2 separate regions of the Homo sapiens genome follow, and region 2 is linked to region 1. Evidence: fine-mapped expression QTL. Tissue or cell type: whole blood. Region 1 holds a variant in brackets; the other region holds the start of a gene. All regions are shown on one strand. Distances are between the middles of the regions.

Evidence for each region. PIP is the estimated chance that this variant, and not a neighbour inherited with it, causes the effect.
Region 2: SCAMP4 starts here. The variant in region 1 is fine-mapped to the expression of SCAMP4 in whole blood (TOPMed, PIP 0.95).

Annotation. Positions count from the first base shown.
Region 1 is chr19:1,952,418-1,959,527 of GRCh38, reverse strand. The region is part of intron 1 of CSNK1G2 (casein kinase 1 gamma 2); the gene reads right to left. It overlaps CSNK1G2-AS1 (CSNK1G2 antisense RNA 1), which reads left to right and starts at 4,979. Exons shown (of 3, transcript NR_033400.1): 1 at 4,979-5,685; 2 at 6,022-6,142; 3 at 6,517-7,001. RefSeq lists an enhancer at 3,647-4,598. The variant C/G (reference allele first, on the strand shown) is at 3,596.
Region 2 is chr19:1,901,476-1,908,585 of GRCh38, reverse strand. It overlaps SCAMP4 (secretory carrier membrane protein 4), which reads right to left and starts at 3,187. Exons shown (of 7, transcript NM_079834.4): 1 at 3,147-3,187. It overlaps ADAT3 (adenosine deaminase tRNA specific 3), which reads right to left and starts at 3,187. Exons shown (of 2, transcript NM_138422.4): 1 at 3,147-3,187. RefSeq lists enhancers at 1-608, 2,684-2,773, 3,794-3,853, 4,134-4,193 and silencers at 2,934-3,083, 3,134-3,463.

The DNA of each region.
Region 1 (7,110 bases):
GGGTGGTACTAAAGGTGGGGCGGGTGCTGGGGGCCGAGCATTAAAGGTGGGGCGGGTGCTGGGGGCTCAGCCGCAGCCTGTAGGGTCTGTGCTACCCTGCGCAGGCAGGTGTCCGGGCAGGTAAGACACCCCGATGCCACGTCAGGAAAAAGACATCACACCCACCCTCTCTGTGAGCCCCAGAGCTCCAGCCCTTTCCCAGACAAGGGAGTGGGGACACTCACAGGCCACTGAGAGGGAGCTGCCAAAACCCTCGTTGAGGACAAGAGACTGGAGGCCACCAACCAAACCTGAAAAGCAAACGTCACCGACTTCACGAGGAAAACAAATCCATCCCTTCTCGCCATGAGGATGAAAATATCCTCTATTAGATGGCACAGACAGAGACACAGCCTCATGATGAGCTAAAGGCACTGAGCTGCATGAGTTACACAGCTAGCGGGTACAGCCCGAGTGTCACACCTCAGTTATTAATACAAAAACCAACTCGCACCCTGGGAGCAGATGGAGATGCAGACTGGGAAGCCACATGGGGAATTTGGGGAAGGGACGCTCAGGACCCAGAGCCAAAGCTCATACCCACACTCAATACCGGCTGCTGTGGCCCTGGACGGGGGTGGGGGGGACGGGGGGAGGGGGGACAGTGCCTGGACGGGGGATGGGGGACGGGGGGAGAGTGCCTGGACGGGGTAACGGAGGACAGTGCCTGGGAGAGCTGGGCTGCTGCGGCCCTGGATGGGGGGACAGGGGGACGGGGGACAGTGCCTGGGAGAGCTGAGCTGCTGCGGCCCTGGATGGGGGGACGAGGGGAGGGGGGACAGTGCCTGAGAGAGCTGAGCTGCTGCAGCCCTGGATGGGGGGACGAGGGGACGGGGGACAGTGCCTAGGAGAGCTGAGCTGCTGCGGCCCTGGACGGGGGGACGGGGGGACAGGGGGACGGGGGACAGTACCTGGGAGAGCTGAGCTGCTGCAGCCCTGGACGGGGGGACGGAGGGACAGGGGACAGTGCCTGGGAGAGCTGAGCTGCTGCGGCCCTGGACGGGGGGATGGGGAGATGGGGGGGACAGGGGAGATGGGGGGACAGGGGACAGTGCCTGGGAGAGCTGAGGCCCTCTAGACACCTAGCAGGAGCCGGGCAGCTCTCCTGCCCTGGTGCACCAACCCCACGGCCCCCACTGCTGAGCCCTGCAAGACGGCCCTGCCGGGCTCCTGTTCCCCTAACATACACACTCGCTGCCCAAAAAGGACGAAGCGAGGCCCAGCGGCCTCTGGGAACCACCGAGAAGGAAGCCGTGCTCTGGACAGACATCAGGGGCACAGGCTTTGGTGGGGGCAGTGGGAGTCCCAATCGCCCCTCAATTCCAGGCAGAGCAGGCAGGTGCCCCATGAGGCTGCGCTGTGCTTCCAACGCCTCCAGACCTGCTCGGGAGGGGCCCCTTACTCAGCCACCGATGTCCCTCAGGTGTCCCATTAGGATGTGGGCAGTGCCGTCGTCAGGACGCGTCCCAACACCCGGCTTCCGGACAAGACAAGCGCACACCTCCAACCCCTCCCTGCACACGGGGGAAGCACGTGGTGACATGAGGCTGGCTCTGCCGTGTGCCCCGCAGCTCCAGGGGGCCCTAAGCAGTGGCCGTGCCACACACACAGTGCCCGCCGAGCGCCCACCCCACATAAACGGCGCCCGCCTAGCTCCCACCCCACAAACACGGCGCCCGCCGAGCACATACCCCCCACACACGGCACCCACCGAGCACACACCCCAGTGTTTCCAGGGGAGATCTGGCAGCTGCTCAAATGCCGCCAGACGCCCTCAGAGGCCCCTCTGTGCCCACGTCTGCAGTCACCCGGGGTCCTGCGCACCCTCCAGTCTCTGCCTGTGTGGTGAGCTGTGAAAGTGGCCTAGCCTGTGGAGCGCGCCCCGGGCGAGGGGACATGGGGGACCTGCAGGGGCAAAGGCATCTGCTCGGCTCCCTCAGTGAGGACAAACATGAAGTGGAGAGAGAGGTGCCTGCGCTCACTGTCCCTCCTAACAGCAAACCCAAGGTCTCCCACAGGCCCGGCCACCCAAGCCGCTCGGGGCAGCCCCCTTCTCTCCCAGGCTGCTCTCTGCTCAGCACTTGGTTTGCACGAGCGCCTGGTGCATCCCGGGACATCTCTCCCCCGGCTCCACTTTCGTCTGTGGTGCCCACGTGACCTCCCGGGCACACACTGCTTCTCATCCTTGCGGGCCTCCAGGCTGGGCAAGGCACCCTCCTGGGCACAGGGCCACTGGCCTGCTCTCCGTGTAGGCTATCCCTCCTGACACGGTGGCCCTCGGGCCTGTGGGGCTGCCTGGAGGGAGGTGGGGCCTGCGTCCAGGTTGCTTTTCTTTCTAGCCGCCCCTGCCTTGCCCTCTCCACAGCCGGGGACCCCAGAGGCCCAATCCCGCCCACCAATCTCCGGGTGGCACCGTTTAAGCCACGCAGCATCAGGGCACGACCGTCGAAGGGGGGCGCCACCACCAGCCTTCCCTCTGCAGAATCCCCTCCTCCTCCCTCCTTCTCTCTTCCAGGTGAGCCATTGGCTTGGTCAGTTCCTTCTGCTGAGAAACCCTGAGTGATGTGTGATTAACTGAATTAACCCATCAACCGCCGCCTGGCCAGGTTCATCGAGGCTGAGCCCTAAATTCCGGAACGAGCCTCCTGGGGCTCTCTGGGGTGTCCTCCTGGCCCGGAGACAGAAGCTTCTGGACGGCTGTCTCACAGCCCCCACGGATGTGGGTATGACCCACGGCCCCGTGTCCCGATGCTGGAGTCTGTAACCGCCACCTCCTTAAACACTCTCCCATCCCCAACACTCAGTCTACCCAGATGGGACTGGACACACCCCACCCAGCCCCTCTGTGGAGGGTCAACACCAACCACTGAAAGGGCCAATGCCGCAGGGTAAGCGCCTGTGCCACAGCCACAGCTGCCGGGTCTGAGTACAGAGTGGCCTTGCCGGCTAGGATGCGTGGTCTTTTGTTTTTTGAGACAGGATCTAGCTCCATCACCCAGGCTGGAGTGCAGTGGCAGGATCTCGGCTCATTACAACCTCCGCCTCCCGAGTTCAAGCAATTTTCCCGCCTCATCCTCCCAGGTAGCTGGGACCACAGGCATGAGGCACCATGCCGTCTGATCTTGGCTCAGCTACATGCGTTCTGGCTTTTGCAGAACAAAAAGCACCAAATCCCCATCCCAGCTGCACCTGCACAGATGACAAGCCCCAACCCCCAGAACCTGTGACGTGAGCGCTGCCCTGCTGGGTCTACCCACTGCTGGGTCTAGGGCCCCACTGCTCCTGGCATCCCCCTGGAAGCCTCCTTGTGCGACCCCCGGCCCCTCGTCTGGGTGGTGACCATCACCTCTCAGGTCCTGGCTCCCGCAGGGCCTCTCGGCACCCCTGCCCCATGACCTGGAGGCAGGAGGATGAGAAAGGGGCAGGCCCTGCACTCAGGGACCCAACGCTGTCGGGAGCTGGGGTGAAGGCCAGCCCGGGCTGTGTGCCGACCCTGCTCCGCCCGGCCAACGAGCAGGCTGCCCCGCTGGCGTCTGTTCTGATACAGTGGTCTTGG[C/G]TGTTGTGGCCCAGGCAGGTTGGGGTTGCTACTTTCTCTCTGGCCCCCTGGATGAGCACTGGCCTCCCTGTGCCCGGCCTCAGGGCCGGCCGGGAGCAAACCCCACTGTGCCCTGCAGAGCTGAGCCACACAGATGCACACCCGGCTTTGCAGATGGAGCCCGGAGCCGAGCAGCAGCCTCCTCCGGTGACAGCAGTGGCACGGGGGTCCGCTGAGCACTCCCTGCACCCTCAGGGCTGGATCCCGCCTCCAAGCATCTCACGACAGCCCCTCTGAGGGGGTCGTGGGCGGACAGCAGAGGGAGGGCCCAGCCACACCCACCCTAAGCCTGACATGGACGGAGAAGCCCCTGACCTGGGCGCTGCCCCCGACTCGCGGAGCCTCGCCCAGGCACACGCCCACCCCGCGGAGCCTCACCCTGGCACACGCCCACCCCGCGGAGCCTCGCCTCAGCCTGAGCCTCAGTGGGGGGCGCTGACCCACAGCCGGTGAAGGGCAGCCCAGTGGAAAACGGGAGCACTGCTTGCACACCTGCCGCCCACGGTGGCCGCTAGCCCACATCCCCCACCTCAGGAGTGGCCCCGAGAGTCACCGCCTGCGCCTGAGGCCCTCGCAGCAGCAGCAGCAGCAGCAGGAGGGCAGTCAGAGGACAGGCAGGGCCGCCACCCTGGGCTGTGTTCCGTGGGCACAGGGCGGGTGCCCAGCTCCCCCTGCCCCCACAAACAAGAGCCGCCACTCCAAGACTCAGCAGCTTCCGAGGGCGCAGATCACTCCCTGGAGGCGGTCACCACTCGGTCAGGGCCCAGCACCCGTCCATCACCAAGGAGGAAGAGCCCGGCCTCTTCTGGGGCTCTCCGAACCCCAGGGGGTGCCCAAGGGAAGCCAGACAAGGCCGGGGCCTGGAAGGAAGCGAGGACGTAAAGGCTGGGCACCCACAGTGCCCACGCAGGCCTGGGGGTTGGGGGCCTGCCCTGTTGCCTGAGGGCCACAGCGAAAAGCAACAACCCCAGGGAGGGACGAAGGGACGCTGATCCTCACCCAGCCTCCACCCAACCCACGCAGCCACGATTCCGTCCCAGGGGGCGAGTGCCGGCTCCGGGTCACACGCCAAGGATGGCTCCCGGGCGCCAACGAGGGGATTGCAGCCATCCCACAAGGGGCTGCTCTCTCCCCGTCAGCTCCCATCCCCTTCCCCAGCCCTAGCCTCAGGCTGCTACCTGCCCTGTTCTTTTCGGGGTCCTCCATCTGGTCTGGGCCCAGGGCCAGTTCCCTGGGGAGGGCCCCGGGAGCCCCCTTCTCTGACTGTCTCCACTGAGTGATGTCACAGTCCCTGGGCTGACATCACCACACAGCCCTCAGCCCAGAGCCCAGGGCAAAGCTGAAGGGAGGCCAGGGACCTCACTGGGCTGGGCAGGTGCAGGCCACCGCCGTCCCAGTGCCCTCAGAGGCACCTAGACTCATGTGGACCCGGCCGCAGACCGTTCTGGGCAGCTCTGTCCAGGCCGGCCCTGCCCTCTGACCTGGGGCCGCAGGGGCTGGCCACTGTGGGCTCGGTTCCCTGCCACCCCAATTCATCTGCACCCCAAGGAAAGAAAATGAGGGGTTGCAGCGCCCCAGGACCCAAGAGCCCCCGAACACCAGGGCAGCACATACTTCCAGTGCCAGGGCCACAGCAGAGCGGGGCCAGGCCCAGCCCAGTGACGCAGGGCAGACGGAAGGGCGCCCTCCACAATGGAGGGGCGCAGGAGCTGCCGCGGCCAGGACAAACCAACCTCAGGCTGACCTAGGCCGGTAATGGGTTTAACGCATCAGGTGCAAAAGAGAAACACCCCACAAATCAGGGAGAGGAGGGAAGCCGCCCACCCCATGGGAGGAAGCTGAGGAGTGAACGCCAGGGATGGGCAGGGCCGGTCCTCGGAGCACTGCAGACACCAGACCAAGGGCGACTGTCATCACCACGAGAAGGCCCCGTCCATGGCAGAAGCCAACCTCACCGCGCCGACTGCACCGGAGACGCCCACGAGGACAGCCGGCCTCTGAGAACGCAGCTGAGCCGTCACAGGTCGCCATCAGCAAAGGCAAGAGTCCAGGTAAAGAACACAGGAGGGCCACAGGTGATCGCGGTACAGCGGCCAGGACCGGACCCTGATGCGGGGGGAGGGGGCAAGGCTGCACAATGGCAGCTGGGACCAGACCCTGTTGGGGGGATGTGGGGGACGGCGAGGCTGTGCAGGGACCCCGTCCCACAGGTCAGCCTCGCCCTGGTGATGGCACAGACCACAGGTGAGGGCCACGGGCAGAGCTGACCAGGGAAAAGCTGGCACTCACCCAGCACCGGACACATAAGGCAAACACCACCGGCAGCCTTGGCGGAGGGCACTGTCCCTGCAACTAGTCCACATAGGGGCAATTTTCCCAAAATTCAGATTATGCAAACGGAGGCAAGGCTGCCATGGACTCCAGAGCCTCAGACGCCATCAACAAAAGCAAAGTGGACACATCTGCATCAAATCCATCACAAAGACGGCCTTCCAGACTCCGGGGGAAGTGAGAACACCCCCACCCAGGCCCCCATGGCGCACAGGCCCCCACAGCAACCCTGCGCCACCTCAGCAGCCTCAGCTCTGCTTCCTGCTCCGTGGCCCGGGGGCAGAGCTGACCTGGTCTTGCCAGGGGGGCAGGGGTCCCCGGTCCCAAGTGGTGCCACAGACAGCGGGGGGAACGTGCAGGCAGAGTCAGGCACCCCACCAGGAAAGAAAGCTCCCACGGCAGGTCCCGGGGGCGAGTGGGACCCGGGGTGGCTCCCATCGGAATCCTGCTACATCTGAGAGGACACGGGTCCTTCCAGAAGCGTAACCATGAACGGCCGTGGAAAACCTGGGTGGGCTGCGTTTCTACATTTCCTTTGTTTTTTTTTTCAGACGGAGTCTCGCTCTGCCACCCAGACTGGAGTGCCTTTTCCCCTCATCGTGTGGGAGCCGCCGGGCGACATCCCGCCCCGGTTTCCCTCCACTCGAAGGCAGTCACCTCGGTTGCCAGCTCCTGCCTCTGTGATGATCCCCACGAGGGCTGCAGAGTGAAGGGCACAGCAGGGTTCGGCCTAACTCCCCGGGGAGCCCTAGGCGAGAGGGCTTGGTCCTGGGGAGCTGCCCAGGTCTTCTATATCCCCTGGCCTCCATCCAGTCCCGCACGACTCAGCTCCTGGCCCTGTGCACCGGGCGACGCCTGCTAGGCGCATGACCCTCAGAGTCAGGCCTGTACTCACCTCAGCATCTATCAAGGGCCTTCAAGGATCGGGTTTTTTTAATCATCGTCAAATATATCGTTACTAAAAAGATACGTACACTTTGGGAGGCCGAGGTGGGAAGATCACTTGAGGTCAGGAGTTTGAGACCATCCTGGACAACATGGTGTAACCCCGGTCTCTTCTAAAAATACAAAAATTATCCGGGCATGGTGGCGGACGCCTGTAATCCCAGCTACTCGGGAGGCTGAGGCAGGAGAATCACTTGAAC
Region 2 (7,110 bases), 51 kb after region 1:
GGGGCTAAGCCGCAGATGATCTTAAAATGACTCCAGCCGGGTGATCCTGAACTGCCAGCCTGGACTACACATCCCCGCTGGTATGGACGGCTCCTCCCGCAGACAGGGATGTGTCTCTGGATCATTTCGCAGCCGCGCAGCTGTGGGTGCTACTCCTCGACATGCACTGCCTGGTCCACGCCTCAGCCGCCGGGGCGCCCCACAGATGGGGGACCAGCAGCCAGTGGAACTCCAGGCCAGTGGCCTTGGAGGTCACGCTGAAGCGGCCCCAGCGCTGCCCGAAGCTCACGCGTTCAACAAAGCACAGAACCGGAGATGCAGTGGGAGCCGGGAGCAGGAAGCGCGGAGGCAGCGCCAGGTGCTGCCGCTGCCCGAGGCCCCGTGCCAGGTGGGGCCCATAGCAGCCGACTCGCTGGGCCCTCCCAAAACGCACACCACGCGCGACCAGGACCGAGAGGCCCGCACGGCCCTGCTAGGCCACAAACACTCCACTGTCTCCAGGGTAAAAGACAAACACAGCCTCGCTTGTCCCTCCAAGAGTACAACCTCTGTCTGATGAAAAACAAACGACCCAGAGAGGAGGCAGCTGCCGGGACACTGCAGGCTGGGCCCGCCGCGCCCTTGGAGGGCAGGTCAAAATCCCGGAACAGGCACAGTGTTCAGGCTGATTGACTGTCCCAGGCCAGGGCGGCCTCAACTGCCAGAGCACCTCCTACCTACCTGCTATGGCCCGGGGGGACGACTCACTCCCACAGCGACTGCCCCCCAACAGCAGGGGGCCACCTGACCCTCCCTCTACCACACCCACCCAGAAGGCAGGCGACCGACCACTGGGACCCCTCAGGAGGGCAGGCAGCCCAGGTCCCAGGTCCCAGCAGAACACGGCCGCCAGCCTGGGCTGGGAACCGGCATAGCTCCAGGCAGGTGAGTCAGACCCTGCGTGGTGACAACCCTGGTGAACAGGAGGCTGGGAGGCCTTTATCTAAGCCCACAGATGAGGAGGCCAAGGTCCGCGCCGGGACCTGGGTATGTCCACCCAGAAAACACACCCAGTCCCCAACCTGCCCTAGAGGCGTTCAGCCCAGCGCGGTCAATTCCTGACTGCGAGAACTCAGGCACCAGTCCTGACTCCTCCAAGCCTCGGCTTCCACCCCTGTGAAATGGGAATTCCTGCTCTACCTTTTTTTTTTTTTTAAGGCAGGGCTGTCAGGTACATAAGAGAAAATGGGGGGATGGAGGGGCCTGACCATCTTCAGCAGAATCCAGGAGGGCTCCTCGGAGGCAGTGACCCACAGCCCAGCCTGGAAGGCTGGGGAAGTAGGGGAGAGAACTCGGAGAGGGAACAGCTAATGCTCAGTTCCAGGGCACACCAATAGTCTGCGTGGGGGCTTTTTTTTTTTTGGGACAGTCTCACTCTGTCCCCCAGGCTGGAGGGCAGTGGCGCGATCCTGGCTCACTGCAACCTCTGCCTCCCTGGTTCAAGCAATTCTCCTGCCTTAGCCTCCCAAGCAGCTGGGACAACAGATGTGCACCACTATGCCTGGCTAATTTTTTATATTTTTAGTAGAGGTGGGATTTCACCATATTGGTCAGGCTGCTCTCGAACTCCTGACCTTGTGATATACCTGCCTAGGCCCCCCAAAGTGCTGGGATTACAGGCGTGAGCCACTGCGCCCAGCCTGGGGCTTGTTTCTTTACACACACACACACACACACACAATTTTTTTTTTTTTTTGAGACGGAGTCTCACTCTGTCGCCCAGGCTGGAGTGCAGTGGCACGATCCTGGCTCACTGCAAGCTCTGCCTCCTGAGTTCACACCATTTTCCTGCCTCAGCCTCCTTTGGGAGTAGCCGGGACCACAGGCGTCCACCACCATGCCTGGCTTTTTTTTATTTTTAGTAGAGACAGGGTTTCACCGTGTTAGCCAGGATGGTCTTGATCTCCTGATCTCGTGATCCACCCGCCTTGGCCTCCCAAAGTGCTAGGATTACAGGCGTGAGCCACCACGGCCGGCGCTACACGTATGTATTTTATTTATTTATTTAGAGACAGGGTCTCGCTCTGTTGCCCAGGCTGGAATGCAGTAGTGCCATCACAGTTCACTGCAGCCTCAACCTCCGGGGCTCAAGCAATCCTCCTGCCTCAGCCTCCCAAGTAGCTGGGACCACAGACATGTGTCACCATGCCTGGCTTATTAAAAAAAAATCTTTTTTTCTTTTTTTTGGAGAGTGAGTCTTGCTAGCTTGCTCAGCCTGGAGTACAATGGTGCCATCTTGGCTCACTGCAACCTCCACCTCCCAAGTCCAAGCGATTCTCCTGCCTTGGCCTCCCCAGTAGCTGGTTTTACAGGCGCGTGACACCACGCCCAGCTAATTTTTGTATTTTTGGCAGAGATGGAGTTTCACCATGTTAGACAGGCTGGTCTCGAACTCCGGACCTCAGGTGATCCACTCGCCTTGGCCTCCCAAAGTGCTGGGGTTATAGGGTGAGGAACTGCACCCAGCCGTCCTTGTTTCCACGGAGTCGATCCTCTGTTTCTGGCCACCCTACAAGGAGGCCTTCTCTGCAAGACAGCGGGGAACCTCGGTCCTCGGGGTAGTGTGTGGGAGATAACTGGGGGCCTGTGATACAAAAACCTGAAAAACTCATACTCTAGGTAACGATGAGGAACGATGGTCAATTCTGGGGATGTACCAAGGCCTAGGGGAATCTCCACATAAAGGCGAATCAGAGCTGGGGAGGAAGGACGCGAAGGCTACGGAAACTCGCGAGAGCGCGGTTCAGAGGCAGGGGACTGCGGGACATGACCTGAGGAAGGGCCACCGGAAGCAGCTGGAGGATACGGGGTCTCCCGCACCGACCATAAGGGCGCACACGCGCAGAAAGGCGCTAGGCCCGGGGGAGCGCGGTCCTGAGGCTTCCCCCAGGCCAGCGCCGCGCGCGCGCGCGCACGCGCATTCGCGCCGCCTCCCCGCGTCGCCCACCGGCCCGCCCGAGACGCGCGCGAGGCTGGCCTGGGCCCCCCGTTTTCTCCCCACAAACGGCCGGCGCCCCTCACCGCCGAGACCCCCCATGTCAGCCCCTACTCCCCCTCTGGGGAAGTCTGAGCCTGGAGAACCCGAGACCTCGGGGCCGCGCGCTTACCTGAGGGATCCGGGCGCGAGCGCAGCGCTTCGCCAAGTCTTAGCAACCGGCCCGGCCCAACCCACCTCACCCCGCCTCGTCTCCGCCTGGAGCCGCGGAGCACGACGGGAGCGTAGTTCCAGGGGCGGGATCTTCGCCAGGCCAAGGTGGGGCAAGGACTACAATTGCTAGTAGGCACTGCGCGCCGCCGCCTCGCCCCGCCCCGCTCCGGCACTGCGCTCACATGACCTCCGGGCGGCGGGAGGGGAGGAGAGGCGGGGCCGCTGCGCTGGGCGAGCGCTGAGTTTGCAGGTTCGAATCCCATCAAGCGGCCAGGGAAAACTCGGAACCCGGGGGATCTTTGGAAGGTTAGCAGAGTGGGAAGGATGAGGCAGAGGGGGTATATGACACCCGTCCCCTGAGTCCGGGATGGGGCCAGGTTCCAGTTCTGCCTGTTACTGCACTCCGGCGTGGGCCGCCCTCAGGTTTGAGTTTTCTCACCAGTAACGTAGGTGAAGAAGACCTCTTGCCTCTCCTGGGCCAAACAAGCACATTTTTTTTTTTTTTTTTGAGACGTAGCCTCAGTCTGTCACCCAGGCTGGAGTGCAGTGCTAGGCTCACTGCAACCTCCACCTCCTGGGTTCAAGCGATTTCTGGCTAGTTTTTGTACTTTTAGTAGAGAAGGGGTTTCACCAAAACATGCATATTTTATGAGCAATTTGTTACTCCTTCCAGTTGGACAGGTTTAACCAAGTGGTTCTCAACGGGAGGGAATTTGTCATCCCCTCCCCCAACAGCTTGACAGTGCCTGGCTGTAACCAGCTCAGGCTCCGATGCCAGAGTCTTGACAAACCAGTAAGGAGGAAAAAGTGCAGTGAAAGGAAGGTGACTTCCTTTCAGAGTTCGCAGCAGGGAGGCAGCTGGTTTAGGCCTCCAGAAACCCCTTCAAACTTGAGGCTGGGGTGAGGGGCTAAAAAAGGGGAACTGGGAATGGTGGGTGTGCAGGGGAGGTGCTGATTATAAGCTCTGTGTGTTCATGAATTTTGGTGGCTTAAAAGCGCAGGCTGGCCTCATCCTAATAAGGGCCGGGTTGCAGACCACCTTGAGGAAATCTCTGGGATTTTGCAGGTGGGTCTCCGTGCTTGGCCTGTCTCCAGATTAGCTCTAAAACGTTCTTTCTTTTTTCTTTTTTTTCGAGACAGTCTCGCTCTTGTCACCGAGGCTGGAGTGCAGCAGCACGATCTCAGCTCACCGCAACCTCCACCTCCCAGATTCAAGTGATTCTCCTGCCTCAGCCTCCCGAGTAGCTGGGATTACAGGCACACGCCACCACACCTGGCTAATTTTGTATTTTTAATAGAGATGGGGTTTCTCCATGTTGGTCAGGCTGGTCTCAAACTCCTGACTTCAGGTGATCTGCCCGCCTCGGCCTCCCAAAGTGCTGAGATTACAGGCGTGAGCCACCGTGCCCAGCCTGTTCCTGGAACTTTTAGGTAATCACATAATTAGATGCATACAGTTAGGTAAACCTGCAGAGTGTGAGGGAGTTTATGGTGAGAAAGGGGAGGACGTGTTTCAAAGAAAGTGCATTTCAAGGTCGGATGCGGTGGCTCATGCCTGTACTCCCAGCACTTTGAGAGGCCAAGGTGGGTGGATCACCTGAGGTCAGGGGTTCGAGACCAGCCTGGCCAACATGGCGAAACCCCATCTCCACTAAAAATACAAAAATTAGCCAGGCATGGTGGCAGGGGCCTTTAATCCCAGCTGCTGGGAAGGCTGAGGCAGGAGAATCACTTGAACCCGGGAGACGAAGGTTGCGATGAGCTGAGATCGCACCATTGCACTCTGTTGCCTGGGCGACAGAGTGAGACTCCATCTCAAAAAAAAAAAAAAAAAAAAAAAAAAAAAAAAACAGCATTCCAGGAAACTATTTCGCTCTCAGTTGCTTTCTTTTTTCCTTTTCTGAATAAAAACTCAGACTGCTGTGAGTTTCACTTTTTCTTTTTTTAGCTTAAATACACATCTCTCCATCCCTGGATGCCTCATGCAAACTAGCCAAGAGCCCCTGTTTTGCTGATTTGTTTTAAAAAAAAAAAAGACAGCCTTTATTTGGTAAGTCATTAAATCCAAAGCCCAGATTCTCTGCATCTAAAAAAATGAATCTAGGCCAGGCATGGTGGCTCGTGCCTGTAATTCCAGCACTTTGGGAGGCTGACACATGAGGTTTGCCTGAGGCCAGGAGTTTGAGACATGCTGCCATCTCTGCAAAAAAAAAAAAAAAAAGAATTGCTGGGTCCGGAGGGGCACTGAGTAAGTGGGACAGCTGGGACAGCTACTCAGGAGGCCGAGGTGGGAGGATCACTGGAGTCCAGAAGGTCAAGGCTGAAGTGAGCTATGATTGCGCCACTGCGCTCCAGCTGGCTAATTTTTGTATTTTTTAGTACACCATGTTGGCCAGGCTGGTCTCAAACTCCTGACCTCTGGTGATCTACCTGCCTCAGCCTCCCAAAATGCTGGGATAGTGCGAGCCACCATGCCTGGCCTTCTTTCGGGTTTTTGTTTTGCTTTGGGCTTTAAGCTAGTTTCAGTCATGATTTCAGCCTCTACTGATGGGACCCCTTTTTTAATTGACATTGTTCTTTATCCAGAACTTTTCTTTTTCTTTCTTTTTTTTTTTTTTTTTTTTTTGAGAAGGAGTCTCACTCTGTCGCCCAGGCTGGAGTGCAGTGGCGCGATCTCAGCTCACTGCAAGCTCCACCTCCCTGCAAGCTCCACCTCCCGGATTCACGCCATTCTCCTGCCTCAGCCTCCCGAGTAGCTGGGACTACAGGCGCCCACCACCACGCCCCGCAAATTTTTTTGTATTTTTAGTAGAGACGGGGGTTTCACCATGTTCGCCAGGATGGTCTCGATCTGTTGACCTCGTGATCCGCCCGCCTCGGCCTCCCAAAGTGCTGGGATTACAGGCATGAGCCACCGCGCCCGGCCTTTATCCAGAACTTTTCAAAAGTAATGTGGCCCACAGCCGGTGTGCTGGCTCACACCTGTAATCCCAGTGTAATCCCAGGACTTTGGGAGGCCGAGGCGGAGGGATTGCTTGAGTCTAGGAATTTTGAAATTGCCCTGGGCAACACAGCGAGACCTTGTCTCTTTCTTTAAAAAAAAAAAAACAACATAGCTGGGAATGGTGGCGCCTGTAGTCTCAGCTACATGCCGGGAGGCTGCGGCAGAAGGATGGCTTGAGCCCAGGAGGCAGAGGTTGCAGTGAGCTGAGATCACACCAATGCCACTTCACTCCAGCCTGGGTGACAGCCAGACCGTCTCAAAAAACAAACGGAACGTGACCCTCCCGACTCACAGTAATGCGTCAGGGTCCGGCATCGAAATGTTGCAAAATCATGGAGTCGGTTCCCCAATTGTGAGCTTAGTGGCCGCAGAGAATCAGCCAGAAGCCTAAGTCAGACACTGGCGGGCTGGGTGGCCCCAAGTGACAGGCAGTCAAGAAATGACCAGGACCAAGCTCGGGGGCTCACGCCTGTAATCCCAGCACTTTGAGAGTCCAAGGTGGAAGGATCGCTTGAGCCCAGGAGTTTGAGACCAGCCTGGGCAACATAGTGAGACCTTGTCTCTACACAAAAATTTTAAATTACCCAGGTGTGGTGTGTGCCTGTGGTCCCAGCTACTTGGGAGGCTGAGGTGGCAGGATCACTTGAACCCAAGAGGTCAAGACTGCAGTGGGCTTTGATCAGCATTACTGCACTCCAGCCTGGGCAACAGAGGGAGATCCTGTCTTTAAAAAAATAGGCCTGGGCGGGGCACGGTGGCTCACGCCTGTAATCCCAGCACTTTGGGAGGCCAAGGTGGGCGGATCACGAGGTCAGGAGATCGAGACCATCCTGGCTAACATGGTGAAACCCCGTCTCTACTAAAAATAAAAAAGCCAGGCGTGGTGGCGGGCGCCTGAAGTCCCAGCTACTCGAGAGGC